Linked DNA regions of Homo sapiens: region 2 is linked to region 1. A link means that fine-mapping ties the variant in region 1 to the expression of a gene that starts in the linked region. Tissue or cell type: whole blood. Region 1 holds a variant in brackets; the other region holds the start of a gene. All regions are shown on one strand. Distances are from middle to middle.

Region 1 (8,000 bases):
GCAGCAGGACAGGAGGTCCTCAGCCCTTGCCCAGCTGCCCAGCCTGCTGTACCCAAACCCAGCACACTTAGGAACACAGGGAGCTTCAAGACTGGGGTGAACATTCTATTGTCATCCTTGTGGGACTGTGACCTCCAGGGTAGGGTGTCCCCACACAGAGTGGGAGCCAGTGCTCAGGGCAGCTGAGCCCTATTGACTGTTACTGTTGCATTCTCCATGTTCAGCTCTTTGGGGGATGGGATGGGGTGGGGCCCTACCTGGTGACAGGCAGCACAGTTTTCTCCTCCCCAGGGATAGTGGCTTCTAGAGTGAAACCCATGGCTCAGCATAGGAAGGGCCTTCCCATCCAGGTTCTGTTGACGGTCGTCTGGTCTTCTGCTGGCATCTCCACAAACATGCCCAGGGGCCCGATGCTGAAACCTAGTTGGATTAGGAAGAGGGTGAGGGACCCTGTAGGTCACAGCAGCCTCCTAGACATTGTCTGAATTTGGGAAAATGAAAGGCAGGGATGTTGGTAAAAGTTTCTTCTCTCCGCCCTTGTGAGAGGAAAGACTTAATTCCTCCAAAAAAGGTTTACTGAGCATGTCCTGCAGCTTATGCCATGCCTTGACCCTGTAAAAAAGCTGTTTCTGTCCTCCAGAGGCCACCAGCAACTGCGGTCTGGGGCCCTGGTCTGTGCTGAGTGGAGAGATGGGATTCTTGCCCTCTGCAGGCTGAATGCAGCTGGTGGTGGGGATGGATGGAATGGGAGTGGGTTGTGTGGAGCGCTGGAATGGGAAGGTGAGGCTGTGGCATCTCCCCACAGAGGGCGAACAAGGGCAGCAAGGCTACGGAGAGGCTGAAGAAGAAGCTGTCGGAGCAGGAGTCACTGCTGCTGCTTATGTCTCCCAGCATGGCCTTCAGGGTGCACAGCCGCAACGGCAAGGTGAGCGCCTGCTGTTCCGGCCCCTCCTGCTCTCCTGGCCTGGGATGGGCTCCTGGTTGCCTAATGGCAGTGCGTTTTCACTTGGATGCGCCCCACTCTGAGAGAGGCATGTCCGGCATGGTGCATGCAAGCACGCACATTCCTTTGTCTGGGGCTTTGGGCTGTAGCCCCCAGGTTGAGTGGCAGCTGGCTCAGCTCCCACAGCTGGGAGTGGACAGGGTCTCCAGGGAGGGTATAGGGCAGGGGAGCCTAGCAGGTTTGTGCAGATCTGGCCCTTGGTACAGGGATGCTGTCCTGGGGCCTTGAGGGCCAGAGACACACCTTCTGTCCTGAGTCTGGCTCCTGCTGCCATCTGTAACCTGGGCCTCTCCCTCCTGTCAATACATGTCTGTCAATGTCCAGAATGGCTTGTTTTCTAGCCTGACCAGGAGAGGCAGCTGGTGGGCTCTGCAGAAGCCTCACCTCTGGGCTAGTGTGGGGCTTGTGAATTGAATGCAGGAGGTCAGGTCTGGATCAACGTTCACCTCTGCAGATCCCACCTGGTTACCTCCATGTCCCTAAGCTGTGCCCCTCTGCCAGCATCACACCCTGACCCATGTAGTTCGGGTGAGAGATGGTGTGCCAGAGGTGCTGTGGCACCCAGCTGGCAGGAAGGGTAGGGAGTGCCGGAAGCGACATGCCAGGCCGTGAGCACACCTGGCCACTGGGCTCCAGCCGGCTGGAGATACGAGTTGTGTGCTCTAAGGTGCCCCGGGCCTACCAGGCATTTGCGTAGCCAGGGCGGAGATAACTGGGTGTGTTCTTCTTGCCCACCCTAGAGTTACACGTTCCTGATCTCCTCTGACTATGAGCGTGCAGAGTGGAGGGAGAACATCCGGGAGCAGCAGAAGAAGTGTGAGTATCCTCTGTCCTGAGAGGGGCTGGGCTTCAAACCATTAGGGCCAGGCTGGCAGCTCCTGTGGTTTTAAACCTTCTTTTTTATTTCGAGGGGTTTTATCCAAGTGAAGTGTTGCATGGAGGGCTAATTTAGAAAAGAAGTTGGCGACAGCCATCCCGATAGGCCCCCAGCCCTCTTGTTCCCCTGCCAGCCTATCCTGCCCCCATCACCTGGGCACTCATTTCCCCACTGCCCTGTGATCCCCTGTGAATCCCCCTTCCCCAGGCCCTTTCCAGATTCCACACCTGCCCCTACACACACCCCTGCCATCTCCCCCTAGTCTGCTGCCCATACACCGCACCCCCGGCCTGCCCCCTAGTCCTTTCTGGGACCCTGCCACCACCCCATTTTCTTGGCCTCCCCCATTTCTCCTCATCTACTCCCCGCCCCCTGGGCCTTCCCTGCCCCAGCAGGTGCTGATGCTAAAGGGGCCTTTGGCTGGGCCCACTTGGGCATTCACACTGTGCTGGCCCCACTGCCCTGTTCATATGGCCGGGGTTGCCCGCTCTCAGCTCAGGGGCGCTCCCTCCTGTCTGGGGCAGCCCCTTCCTTCTCTGGGCACTTCCCTCTGTCAGGGCGCTCCTTCCTTCGGGTCCTGCCTGGCAGTGTCGGTGGGGAAGGCAGACCCGGTTCCCTCCTTGGAGGTTTGGGATTCACCCTGAGCTGGGGCTCTGCATGCCTCTGGCCTGGCCTGACCTCCCGCGCCCTCAGGCTCATCATTCTCACCTATGCAGAGCCACCTCTCGGCCCCCAATGCCACCGTGGCCTGGGGGATCAAGGATCTCCGGGCAGCCCTGCCAGTGCTTGTGTCCCAGGGTTTCCTGTCATAACATAGGAGCCCCAGCCATTTCCAGAGTGGCAGCCTCTGTTCCCTGTTCAGCATTATGCCCAGAAATAAGCCCCTTTTCCTCACCTGGTGGAGAAACGGGGGCCTGTGTTAGCAGAGGACGGGCAGAGCCATGCTGCTGTCTGTATGGGGAGACCTCACAGGGAGGTGCTCCCAGTCCAGCCACTCATTCTCAGACCTGCCTTGTGGCTGTGCTTAGGTAGCGTGGGATGTGTGTGTTTGTAAGTCTCATGCTAAGACTCCTCCAGGCCTGGGCTCTCCAGGGCCACACCTCACTCTGCCGCCAGACCAGCACTGCACTTGAGAGCCAAGTGCCCTCTCCTGAGCCCCCAAGCCCTGGCACCAGTTCTTGCCGTGCCCCTTCCCCAGGGTGTGTGGTGGAGGTCCAGTGGGAGGGGCCAGAGGGCCAAGGAGCAGATTGACCAATTGGTGCACCTCTTTTCCAACCTCCCAGGTTTCAGAAGCTTCTCCCTGACATCCGTGGAGCTGCAGATGCTGACCAACTCGTGTGTGAAACTCCAGACTGTCCACAGCATTCCGCTGACCATCAATAAGGAAGGTGGGCCCCCCCGTTTCCGTGTACAGGGCACCTGCAGGGAGGGCAGGCAGCTAGCCTGAAGGCTGATCCCCCCTTCCTGTTAGCACTTTTGATGGGACTAGTGGACTTTGGTTCAGAAGGAAGAGCTATGCTTGTTAGGGCCTCTTGTCTCCTCCCAGGAGTGGACAAGGTGGGTTAGGAGCAGTTTCTCCCTGAGTGGCTGCTGCTGGGTGGTTGAGGAGATGCACGGCTTCTGTTCCTAGTCACAAGGCTGCAGCAGACGCTCCTCAGATGCTCTGTGCCTTGGATCTGGCCCCACTCCCGTCCTCCCAGCCCTCCTCTCCTCCAGCTACCTGCCAGCCGGCACTTTTGGTCAAGCTGTTTTGCATTCACTGTTGCACATATGCTCAGTCACACACACAGCATACGCTATGCACATGTGTCCACACACACCCCACCCACATCCCACATCACCCCGACCCCCTCTGCTGTCCTTGGAACCTTATTACACTTCGAGTCACTGGTTTGCCTGTATTGTGAAACCA[G/A]CTGGATCCTGAGATCCCCAAGACAGAAATCATGATGAGTATGTTTTTGGCCCATGACACTGGCTTACCTTGTGCCAGGCAGATGGCAGCCACACAGTGTCCACCGGATGGTTGATTTTGAAGCAGAGTTAGCTTGTCACCTGCCTCCCTTTCCCGGGACAACAGAAGCTGACCTCTTTGATCTCTTGCGCAGATGATGAGTCTCCGGGGCTCTATGGGTTTCTGAATGTCATCGTCCACTCAGCCACTGGATTTAAGCAGAGTTCAAGTAAGTACTGGTTTGGGGAGGAGGGTTGCAGCGGCCGAGCCAGGGTCTCCACCCAGGAAGGACTCATCGGGCAGGGTGTGGGGAAACAGGGAGGTTGTTCAGATGACCACGGGACACCTTTGACCCTGGCCGCTGTGGAGTGTTTGTGCTGGTTGATGCCTTCTGGGTGTGGAATTGTTTTTCCCGGAGTGGCCTCTGCCCTCTCCCCTAGCCTGTCTCAGATCCTGGGAGCTGGTGAGCTGCCCCCTGCAGGTGGATCGAGTAATTGCAGGGGTTTGGCAAGGACTTTGACAGACATCCCCAGGGGTGCCCGGGAGTGTGGGGTCCAAGCCAGGAGGGCTGTCAGCAGTGCACCTTCACCCCACAGCAGAGCAGATTTGGCTGCTCTGTCGAGCTGGATGGATACTACTTTTTTTTTCCTTTCCCTCTAAGTGGGGGTCTCCCCCAGCTACTGGAGCTGTCAGAACAGTGAAGGCTGGTAACACATGAGTTGCACTGTGTAAGTTTCTCGAGGCCGGGCGCAGTGGCTCATGCCTGTAATCCCAGCACTTTGGGAGGCTGAGGCAGGTGGATCGCTTGAGCTCAGGAGTTGGAGACCAGCCTGACCAACATGGTGAAACCCTGTGTCTACTAAAAATACAAAGATTAGCCGGGCTAGGCAGTGGGCACCTGTAATCACAACTGCTTGGGAGGCTGAGGGAAGAGAATCGCTTGAACCCAGGAGGCGGAGGTTGCAGTGAGCCGAGCTTGTGCCACTGCATTCCAGCCTGGGCGACAGAGCAAGACTCCGCCTCAAAAAAAAAAAAAAAAAGTTCCTAGAAACAGCAAAATGTGGAGACAGAAAGCTTACCAGGGATTGTTGGGGAATGGGGTTGGGAGAGAGGACTAACTGCAGATGAACCCAAGGGGGACTTTTTAGGTGAGAGCAGTGTCGTGAAAAGACTGTGGTGCTGTTTGCGCTCACATTTACATTTCCTAAAATTCTTTAAACCCTACACTTGGAATGGATGAATTACATGACATGCAGATTGCACCTTCATAACATAATCTTTCTCCTGGGCCCCTGTCTCTGGCTGCCTCATAAACGCTGGTGTTTCCCTCGTGGGCCTCCCTGCATCCCTGCATCTCCTCCCGGGTCCTGTCTGTGAGCAATACAGCGTGACACCCTACGCTGCCCCGTGGTCCCGGGCTTGTCTCTCCTTGCCTCCCTGTTACCTTTCTTTCTATCTCTTCCTTGCCCCGTGCACTCAACCTTGCATCCCCAAACCAAACCTATTATTCATGGACCCCAAACTTGTTCCTCTTATGTCCTGTCCCTTTGAGGGGCACCACCATCCACCCGCATGGCCAAGCCAGAAACCGTGGTCTGCTCTCCCTCCGTTAAATGCCATTCTCCATCAGTGAGGCTTCTTAGTCATCTCTGGCTGCCTGGCCAGGCCCTGGCTGTGGCCTCCTCCCTGGTCTTTGTAGCTCTGGATATCCCTGCAGAAAGGGTCCCCACTACCAGGCCTCTCCATCCCCAGTCTCAGGTAGTTTTTCTAAAATGCAAACCCCACCCTGCAACTTACCGCCCACAGCCCAGCCCACTCTTCTCCAGGCCTCGCCTCCCTCCCTTCCCCCTGCACCCCACGACTTCTCCAGCACTGAGCTGCTTCCTGTGCCCCACAGTGGCCTGGAGTCCCCTTTGCCTTAACTCTTTGCCCCATAGTACAGCGGGGTCTGCTCTGATTGTAGGGGCTTCCCACATCCCCCAGGATGGCTGCCCTCTGCTGTGGCATCACTGTGTAACAATGGCGTGTACACCTCTCTGTCCCCACCAGTGCAGGGCCCTTCTCATCGTAGGGGCTTTAGCTGGGGTTTGTGGATCGACTGAGTGAACGAATGTTGTGGGAAGTCCCGTTTCCCAGCCGCACCCAGGGAAATTCCACAGAGCGGGCAGGGGCATCGCATGAGGTGCTGGTGTTCACGCCAGACCACAATTAGGTGTTTAATTTTTAAAAAGAAAGTTACAACCTTTTTTTTTTATTTTTATTTTTTCTGATTCTGCAAATAACACCTGCTCTTACAGACCATGTGGGTGATGTGGAAAAGACCTGTGACCTTCTCCATGTCCACTTCTCCCCACAGATCTGTACTGCACCCTGGAGGTGGATTCCTTTGGGTATTTTGTGAATAAAGCAAAGACGCGCGTCTACAGGGACACAGCTGAGCCAAACTGGAACGAGGTGAGGAACTGATTCCACAAGGGCCCAGCCTGCCAGGTGGGGCACAGGATATTTTCCACTGGAGATAATCTAAACCTTCAGGGGCTCCCTGAGGGCTTCCCCCGAAGGCAGTGCTGCTGAATTCCAGGAATCTCCTGGGGGGCCAGTAGGTGACGTGTCCAAGAGATTTTATCTCCTTGTTCCTGAAAACCTTACCCATCCCTGTCATCACAAAGAAGCCACCTATTTTGCTGGAGAAGTGTTTGGAAAGAGACTTAAAAAGGCTTTTTGTCTGCCTTTGTTAGCGCTTATGTTTACTTGGTAGGTTTCCATAGTGTTTTTCCGCAGAAGTTGGAATGAGCTCCCGTGACCCTCTTGGCTTCCGGAAGCCTGGGGCTCTGCTGGTGGGGCTGGGACAGGGACTGTAGGGTCCTGCTTGCTTGTCTCGGGGTGTTGGGTTTGTATTGTGTGTCGCCGTGCCTTCCTCCACCTTGGAGAGCTGCTGTGTGAGTCACTTAGCCATTTGGCCCTGCACCTTCGGGAGTAGGGGAATGATTGCAGAGAGGCCCGTATTGACTAAGTCCCAGATCCATGAGAGGTGCCATTTCCCAGCTTCTGCAGCAGCTGTGACCTCGAAGGTCTCATTCTTGATGCTGCAGGTAGAGGCCAGCTGGGCCTGCAGAGAGCTGCCTCCCACCCCTGCTCCTGCGAAGGAGGAAGCCAAGAGCCCCCAGGCTGCTTGGTCTACACGGGTCACGAGGCTGGTGGATGGAGCAGTGGGGCTGGAACCCAGGTCTCCTTTCTCAGCATCCACTACTCTTTGATCATTTTAGACATGTTGCTTGAATAGTACAAGGGCACAAGGAGCTCAGTAAAATAACCTGGTCATTGTAGCTCTGGACATCCCTGCAGAAAGGGCTGAGTGGCAGCTGTGATGAGAGGGGGTATAAGAGCCACAGGGGATCCATCGAAGAAGCCTTTGCAGAGACCAAGAGTGCCACGACCCAGCAGAGACAACAAGAGAGGGTGCCAGGCAGTGTGCAAAAGGTTCAGGTGCCAGGCAGCCACGGAAGCTCCGGGGAGGCATGAAGACATGAGGGTTAGATTGTAGCAGGTCACGTCCACCACCCTCACTGTCCATGAAGATCTGGACTTGGGGACACTCACATGTTCCTGGCGCACACACACACCCACCCCCTCCCCTATTCAGGTTCAGAAATTCCTGCTGCTTGCTTCTTCCCGCACCCTCCTCCATTTCCCCGCCAAGAAGCCATGCGCGCACACGCCTCGGTGTGAAGCGCAGATTCACCAACAGCACCGTCAGGGTGATGGAGGAGAGAGTTAACACCACGCACCCACGGCAGACAACTGGAGAGCTCGGGGAGCAGTTTTTCCTCCAAGTCCCTCTCCCTCCTGTATCAACCCCAAGGATCACTCTTTTGTTTCCTTTTAGATATAATTCATTTTTTAAAGAGCGGTTTTAGGTTTGCAGCAAAATGGAGCAGAAAGAACAGAGTTCCCATGTACCTCCTGCCCCCCATCTCAATTATGGACATCCCACTCCAGGGTGGGACATGAGTTACAGTTGATGAGCCTGCATTAACCCATCATTACCACCCAGAGTTCATAGTTGATGTTAGGTAGGGTTCATTCTTGGTGTTACACATGTTATGTGTTCTGACAAACGTGGAATGACGTGTATCCACCATAATAATATCTTACAGAATAGTCTCACC
Region 2 (8,000 bases), 110 kb before region 1:
TGCTTGATACACCGCTTCCTTTCAATCCCCACATCCTCACCACCTGTTTCTTTGTTTGATCACCAATAAATAGCATAGGCTCCTAGGGCTAGAGGCCTTTGCAGCCTCTATACTAGCGTTGGCCCCCTGGTCCCACTTTCTCTCTTGCCTTTTCTCACTCCTTTGACTCCGCCAGACTTTGTCGCCCCCACGGCCTGGTGTTGGGTCTGATCACCCCAACATCCCTCATTCCCCACACCCACTCCATCTACAAGTCCCATGAGTTTTACTTCCAGAATGCTCCTGAATTCTAACCCCTTCTCTGGGGTACCTTGCTTCTGCCCTATTCTGGGTCACCAATGCCTTCCTCATAAACAATTGCCACAATCCCCAACCACTCCCCCTACTCCCACCTCCCACGCCCAACCTTCCATGCAACAGACCCCAGCAAGTCACCCCGCTTCCTGTGCGGTTGAGTACAGCAGCCACGGTGGCCATTGAAACTCACTAACACGAAACCAAACATTCAGTTCTTCAGCTGCCCCAGCCACGTTTCAGATGCTCAGTAATCACACGGGGCAGCTCGTGGCTGCCACATTGTGCAGCACAGATTACAGAACATGCCCATGGTACTGGCAAGTTCTATCGGACAGTGCAGGTCTAGAACCTTTGAGCAGCTTTTCCTTGCATTTAGAATAAAACCCAAACTTTGTGCAGGCCTACAAGGCCCTGCCTCACCTCTGATCCCACTTCCTACTGCCTACACCAGCCTCATCTCCCAACCTGGCTGCTCCTCAAACAGAACTTTGAAGCCTCCTTGTCCTTTGCCTACCTGGTCCTTGTCCTTAGGACCAGCTCAGGCATCACCTCCCCTGGCAAGCCTTTCCCCGAACTGTGCCTTCTCCCACAGGACACACACACCTTTGCTATAGCCGGGCTGTGAATGCCTTATCACTTCCTCCCCCATACACAGGCATCGCTCTCGGTGACCTATCTGCCCTCCAGGCCATGCACACATCTGGTTCCTCATTCCACCAGACCTGGTTGAGCACTTACTCTGAGCTCACTATATGAGAGACATAGGGGAACAAGACAAACAGGTCTGTGACCTTGCAGAGTTTAGATCTAGTTGGAACAGACACTGAGTGGGGGATTACAGAGTGTTATGTGTGTCTAAACCCCATGCCCATGCCCATGCCCTGCTGCATTCCTCCCTAGGGAGGGATGGATGATAAGAAAACTCTACAGGAAAGGCCCAGAGGCTCAGGATAGGGGTGCTTTCAGGGAAGTCCTGAGGAGAGAACAGTGTCCTTGGGGCCAGAAGAGGCTGTCCCACAAGGGAGAAAGCCACTATCTGGACGTGTCCTTGTGCCTAACAAAAAGCCATTTGCTATGCCAAGAGAACAGAGCATGCAAACTCAAACTAAACAGCTTCAGAGTTTACTTAGAGACAGGGTCTTGCTCTGTTACCCAGGCTGGAGTGCAGTGGCGTGATCCTAGCTCACTGAAGCCTCAAATTCCCAGGCTCAGTGCAATCCTCCCACCCCAGCCTCCTGAGCAGGTAGAACTACAGGCACGAGGCACCATGCCAGGCTAATTTTTAAATTTTTTTGTAGAGATGGAGTCTCACTATGTTGCCCAGGCTGGTCTTGAACTCCTGGGCTCAAGCGATACTCCTGCCTCGGCCTCCCAAAACACCAGGATTACAGGCATGGGCCACTGTGCCTGCCTTTATCATACCCATTTTAAAGAAGAGGCCATTGAGGGCTGGGTGCAGTGGCTCACACCTGTAATTCCAGCACTACAGGAGGCCAAGGCGGGCAGATCACGAGGTCAGGAGTTCAAGACCAGCCTGGCCAACACAGTGAAACCCCGTCTCTACTAAAAATACAAAAAACTAGCTGGGCGTGATGGCAGGCGCCTGTAATTCCAGCTACTTGGGAGGCTGAGGCAGCAGAATCACTTGAACCCAGGAGGCAGAGGTTGCGGTGAGCAGAGATCACTCCACTGCACTCCAGCCTGGGCAACAGTGTGAGACTCCGTCTCAAAAAAAAAAAAAAATAGGCCACTGAGGATGAGAGCACTGCTCAGTATGGCACTACTGGGATTCCAGCCCCTTTAGTGGCCAGGGCATCATTTGCATCTCAGTTTCCTCACATGCAAAATGGGCTATTTGCAGCCTGATGGGAAGGGGATGAGAAGGTCCGCTGGGTCCAAGGGACCAGGATGGCAGGAGGTTAGCAAGGCCTGCAGAGGGCAGCAGTGAGCTGCGCACCGCCCACCCAGCCTAGAAACTGGGGCCCATGGGTTTTCCAGGGCAGGAATGTTCTCCAGGGGCACTAATATTAACAGGCAATCACGAAATCGACCCCTACACACCATTTATCAGGTTGTGTTTTATGTTTGCCCCATCTGGGCATTTTATGCAGGATGCTCTCAACATTTTGTACCGTGGCCCACAGGACTGGGTGGAAGACAGGACAGCTCAGAGCAGGGAGTGAAACAAAATCTTTGATGGTTCTCTAGGGAAGCCTGGAAATCTGAGACAGGGCAAAGAGCAGGGAGTCTGATGAGCACAAAATTAAAATACCCAAACCAGCCTGCCGGGTCAGGGGAAAAGGAAGCAGGATTGGGCACATGAAGAACAGATGACAAAACTGAGGCTCAGAGAGGCTGAGAGAGACACTGCTGAGGTCACACAGCCAGGAGTCGGCAGGAAGCCCTGAACCCAAGCAGGGCTGGCCTGGCTACTAGCCTGGGCTCAGTCCTTTAGATTGGACTTCAAAGTATCTGCTCCAGATGACGCTGGCATTGGGAGGAGGGCATGATAATCCCTAACATCCACACAGGGACAACAGCACTTGGAGGCAGATGTGCTTCTCACTTCAAGGAAACTGAGGCAGAGAGGGAGAGGTGGTCAGGACTCAAGCCCAGTAATTCATTTGCCAAATCCTGTTTCCTTTTCCCCCAACCCAGCGGGCTGGTTTGGGTATTTTCAGTTTGTGCCCATCAGAGTCCCTGCAGAGTGCTCTCCACTGTGTCTCAGATCTCTGTGTCCCCAGAGAACCATCAAAGGTTTTGTTTCACTCCCTGCTCTGGGCTGTCTTCCACCCAGCCCTGTGAACCTCAGTGCAGGTTGGCCGCCCCCTTAGAGGGAGGCTAATCAGGGAAGTTCTGAGTCAGGTCGTCCTGGAAAAACTACATTGACCTCTGGAGCTCAAGAGAGGCCAGGGGACAAACACATGGCTCAGCACACAGGAAGGCAGGTGTGGGTATTGAGTGACCTGAGGGAGAAATCCCTATTTATCATCCATCATGTGGTCCTGCTGTGACAAACCCGTGTGGCAGCCACCCACAGCAGATCCACAACGTGAGAGGCCCGCTGAAACAAGGGTGCTGGCATTGGTTACTCAGCCTGGCCCTCCCTGCCTTGCGGGGTGACCTGCCTGGTCCTGGCCTCTCTGTGAGTTGGGCCCTGCTGGGTGGTCCCTAGTGTGCCCAGCCCTGAGGCTGGTGAGAGGCCAGGCTGTGAGGTGTGAGGAACTTACCTGCGTCTCCATGGAAGGTGCCCTCCGCATCGTTGGGCCAGATCTGCCTGGTCTTGCAGATGCCCACGATGGTGGCCTCTGACACGACGACTGGGCAGTGCCGGTGACGCTTATGGCACTGCGGCGTGGTAGGGGCAGAGGGGGGAGGTTGCTTCTGTCGGAGGACTGCTGCGAGTTCTGCCAGAGAGAGCAGCTCTTGTCCCGGAACATGAGGTAGGTGGTGGGGCTTGGGGACACGCGGCTGGACTGGCCGGAGAAGTCCTCCTGGCCGGAGGGGAGCCAAGTGTTCCTGTTCCAGGACTGCAGAACTGGCCCAGACCTCTGTATTGGAAAGGTCTTTATGGACCAGGGAGTCCGGTGTCTTTTTTACGGGGGACCCCTGGGCTGCGAGTTGCACAGTCCAATTCGCTGTTGTTAGGGCCTCAGTTTCCCAAAAGGCACAGGGACGGGGGGAGGGTGGCGGCTCGATGGGGGAGCCGCCTCCAGGGGGCCCCCCCGCCCTGTGCCCACGGCGCGGCCCCTTTAAGAGGCCCGCCTGGCTCCGTCATCCGCGCCGCGGCCACCTCCCCCCGGCCCTCCCCTTCCTGCGGCGCAGAGTGCGGGCCGGGCGGGAGTGCGGCGAGAGCCGGCTGGCTGAGCTTAGCGTCCGAGGAGGCGGCGGCGGCGGCGGCGGCACGGCGGCGGCGGGGCTGTGGGGCGGTGCGGAAGCGAGAGGCGAGGAGCGCGCGGGCCGTGGCCAGAGTCTGGCGGCGGCCTGGCGGAGCGGAGAGCAGCGCCCGCGCCTCGCCGTGCGGAGGAGCCCCGCACACAATAGCGGCGCGCGCAGCCCGCGCCCTTCCCCCCGGCGCGCCCCGCCCCGCGCGCCGAGCGCCCCGCTCCGCCTCACCTGCCACCAGGGAGTGGGCGGGCATTGTTCGCCGCCGCCGCCGCCGCGCGGGCCATGGGGGCCGCCCGGCGCCCGGGGCCGGGCTGGCGAGGCGCCGCGCCGCCGCTGAGACGGGCCCCGCGCGCAGCCCGGCGGCGCAGGTAAGGCCGGCCGCGCCATGGTGGACCCGGTGGGCTTCGCGGAGGCGTGGAAGGCGCAGTTCCCGGACTCAGAGCCCCCGCGCATGGAGCTGCGCTCAGTGGGCGACATCGAGCAGGAGCTGGAGCGCTGCAAGGCCTCCATTCGGCGCCTGGAGCAGGAGGTGAACCAGGAGCGCTTCCGCATGATCTACCTGCAGACGTTGCTGGCCAAGGAAAAGAAGAGCTATGACCGGCAGCGATGGGGCTTCCGGCGCGCGGCGCAGGCCCCCGACGGCGCCTCCGAGCCCCGAGCGTCCGCGTCGCGCCCGCAGCCAGCGCCCGCCGACGGAGCCGACCCGCCGCCCGCCGAGGAGCCCGAGGCCCGGCCCGACGGCGAGGGTTCTCCGGGTAAGGCCAGGCCCGGGACCGCCCGCAGGCCCGGGGCAGCCGCGTCGGGGGAACGGGACGACCGGGGACCCCCCGCCAGCGTGGCGGCGCTCAGGTCCAACTTCGAGCGGATCCGCAAGGGCCATGGCCAGCCCGGGGCGGACGCCGAGAAGCCCTTCTACGTGAACGTCGAGTTTCACCACGAGCGCGGCCTGGTGAAGGTCAACGACAAAGAGGTGTCGGACCGCATCAGCTCCCTGGGCAGCCAGGCCATGCAGATGGAGCGCAAAAAGTCCCAGCACGGCGCGGGCTCGAGCGTGGGGGATGCATCCAGGCCCCCTTACCGGGGACGCTCCTCGGAGAGCAGCTGCGGCGTCGACGGCGACTACGAGGACGCCGAGTTGAACCCCCGCTTCCTGAAGGACAACCTGATCGACGCCAATGGCGGTAGCAGGCCCCCTTGGCCGCCCCTGGAGTACCAGCCCTACCAGAGCATCTACGTCGGGGGCATGATGGAAGGGGAGGGCAAGGGCCCGCTCCTGCGCAGCCAGAGCACCTCTGAGCAGGAGAAGCGCCTTACCTGGCCCCGCAGGTCCTACTCCCCCCGGAGTTTTGAGGATTGCGGAGGCGGCTATACCCCGGACTGCAGCTCCAATGAGAACCTCACCTCCAGCGAGGAGGACTTCTCCTCTGGCCAGTCCAGCCGCGTGTCCCCAAGCCCCACCACCTACCGCATGTTCCGGGACAAAAGCCGCTCTCCCTCGCAGAACTCGCAACAGTCCTTCGACAGCAGCAGTCCCCCCACGCCGCAGTGCCATAAGCGGCACCGGCACTGCCCGGTTGTCGTGTCCGAGGCCACCATCGTGGGCGTCCGCAAGACCGGGCAGATCTGGCCCAACGATGGCGAGGGCGCCTTCCATGGAGACGCAGGTGAGTTCCTCACGCCACGTGCGTGGGCACACCTGCACGGGGGAGGAAAACCATAGACGAGTAGGGGATACAAAACAGAAGTTGGGAGGGAGGAGTGGATAGTTTTGAGTGTATCAGGTGCACTTGTGGTTCACGCGGATCCTGCACCCGAACAAACTCCATCCCCTCCTCCTTCCTGAATGCATACTGTTAGTGTTTGGAATGGAATTGGGTTGAGGATGGTCTTGTGAGGGATGGGAGGTGGTTTGTTCCTTTGGTTCTAGAGCAATGTGTTTGTGAAGTACAGCTTGTGAGTTGAAGGAAGATGCTTCAGGCAGTAACCTCCTTGCTATGTGCTCTCTCCATGCCGGGCAGTGAGGATGGCATAAAAGCCGGAGTCATCTCTAGCGCCCACATCGGATGCTGTTAGCAGGGACTGATTTATGTCTTGGGCATTCCCCGCCACCCCACTGATCCTGTTCTGGAGGGGTTATATGACACGTTTGTGAAACCTGAGATATGCTAGCTGCTCCTAGGCCATAGAAGTGTCAGGTTTGCTTGCTAACCAGCAGTCCTGAACACAAGTCACAGCAGGTGAGAATAGGAATTAGAAGGAAGTGAGGCGACAGGCAGTTGTGACTCAGTGGGCCACCGAAAATCAACTGCATGGAGATTTTATCTGGGGGTGAAGCAGAGCCACACCCGTTCTGATCTGCCTGGCTTTGATGGGAGGCTTCACCCATGATTATTCACCACCAGGCTCCTCCATGGTGGTAACCCAGCCCCATTTGCTGACCCTCCAGTGTGCTCCTGCTGCCTCATCTTGCCAAGGATAAGCACCCACAGGTGCTTATTTGGGGCTCCCAATCTGTGGTCAGATTCTAGCACTAAGATTAAAACTATGGGATTGTACGCCTAACTTCTGTGCTAGATGCAAATACCATCAGGCATTTTGGGTCATGGGACTATGTTTTGAGATCCAGACACAGTTTGCCATTGGGGTAAGGAAAGGGTGGGCTGGGGTGTGTGTGTGAGGCTGTCGGGAATCTTTTGGAGTCCTGGTCCCTGTTAAGCTCATCTGGTTTTCTGCTTCATTGATTTTTCTTTTTCTGCTGATGGAGGAGTTGAATGTGCTTGGTTTGTCAAAATCCTCTTCAAACGAGTGAGGCTATTTTTGGCTCTTAGAGCTGCTGCCTTTTTGTGGTGGGCACTCTGTCCTGTTTGTGTTAGGTACTTCCAGTTACTGATCTTCCATTTGCAGCTGGGGTTTCCTGTGGTGCACGGCTCCGACCTGCCGTCTGGCCGGGCTGCATTCCCTAAGTCCCTATGTGGGGGCGGGGTGGAAGGCTGTACTATTCAGAAGCCTGCTTTGCAGGCACATCAGCTCGTTCGGGGTCTGGAGGATTGCCTTGTGGTTACTGGGCACCAGCCTTGTCTGGCCAGCTGTTGGTCAGGCGAGCCAGCTTGAACTGGCCCTCAGTGCCATGGTGCAGGAGAGTTATTAATAAAGAAGAAAATGAGAGGTTTTTAGGGAGATGTGCAAATTGAAATTGATAGTCTTTGCTGGTGGAGAATTCTGGGTTTCCAGAACCTTGGGCCCAGCCTTTCCTACAGCTCCTGTAGACTTGGCCATGTTGGCCACATCACTAGACGCCGAATGCAAGTCAGTAAATGAATATAGGAATTATTATAGAGGGATGGAAAGCCCAGTGCCTTGAGTCAGACAGGGCAGGTCCTCAGGAAATGGCTGAGGAGGTAATTTTACCACTTGGACCCACTTTTAGGACTTGCTGGATTCTTCTCCGAATGTCCTCAAGGTCCCACAGTCTCTTTCCCATTAGGTTTTATTTTTTCCCCCTTAAATGTTTTGTTTGTTTTTTGTTTTTAAGAGACAGCGTCTGGCTCTGCCATCCAGGTTGGAATGCAGTAGTATGATCATAGCTCACTGCAACCTCAAAACTCTTGGGCTCAGGTGATCCACCACAGCCTTTTCAGCAGCTGGGACTGCAGGCTCAAACCACTATACTGGGCTAATTTTTAATTTTTTTTTTTTGTAAATACAGGGTCTTGCTGTGTTGCCCAGGCTGGTATCAAACTCCTGGGCTCAAGCATTCCTCTAGCTTCAGCCTCCTGAGTAGCTGGGGTTACAGGGATGAGACACCTCACCAGGCC

What was found. PIP is the estimated chance that this variant, and not a neighbour inherited with it, causes the effect.
Region 2: BCR starts here. The variant in region 1 is fine-mapped to the expression of BCR in whole blood (TOPMed, PIP above 0.99).

Annotation. Positions count from the first base shown.
Region 1 is chr22:23,286,354-23,294,353 of GRCh38, forward strand. BCR (BCR activator of RhoGEF and GTPase) reads left to right here. Exons shown (of 23, transcript NM_004327.4): 11 at 806-925; 12 at 1,744-1,819; 13 at 3,164-3,268; 14 at 3,986-4,060; 15 at 6,188-6,285. LOC107985554 (a long non-coding RNA gene) reads right to left here and starts at 4,175. Exons shown (of 3, transcript XR_001755448.2): 1 at 3,861-4,175; 2 at 258-420. RefSeq lists an enhancer at 5,880-6,059. The variant G/A (reference allele first, on the strand shown) is at 3,793.
Region 2 is chr22:23,176,391-23,184,390 of GRCh38, forward strand. It overlaps BCR (BCR activator of RhoGEF and GTPase), which reads left to right and starts at 4,119. Exons shown (of 23, transcript NM_004327.4): 1 at 4,119-5,849. The coding sequence starts at 4,571. It also overlaps a transcript of RSPH14 not described here and the pseudogene BCRP8. RefSeq lists enhancers at 1-78, 3,039-3,849 and silencers at 466-565, 3,970-4,209, 4,280-4,549, 4,570-4,649.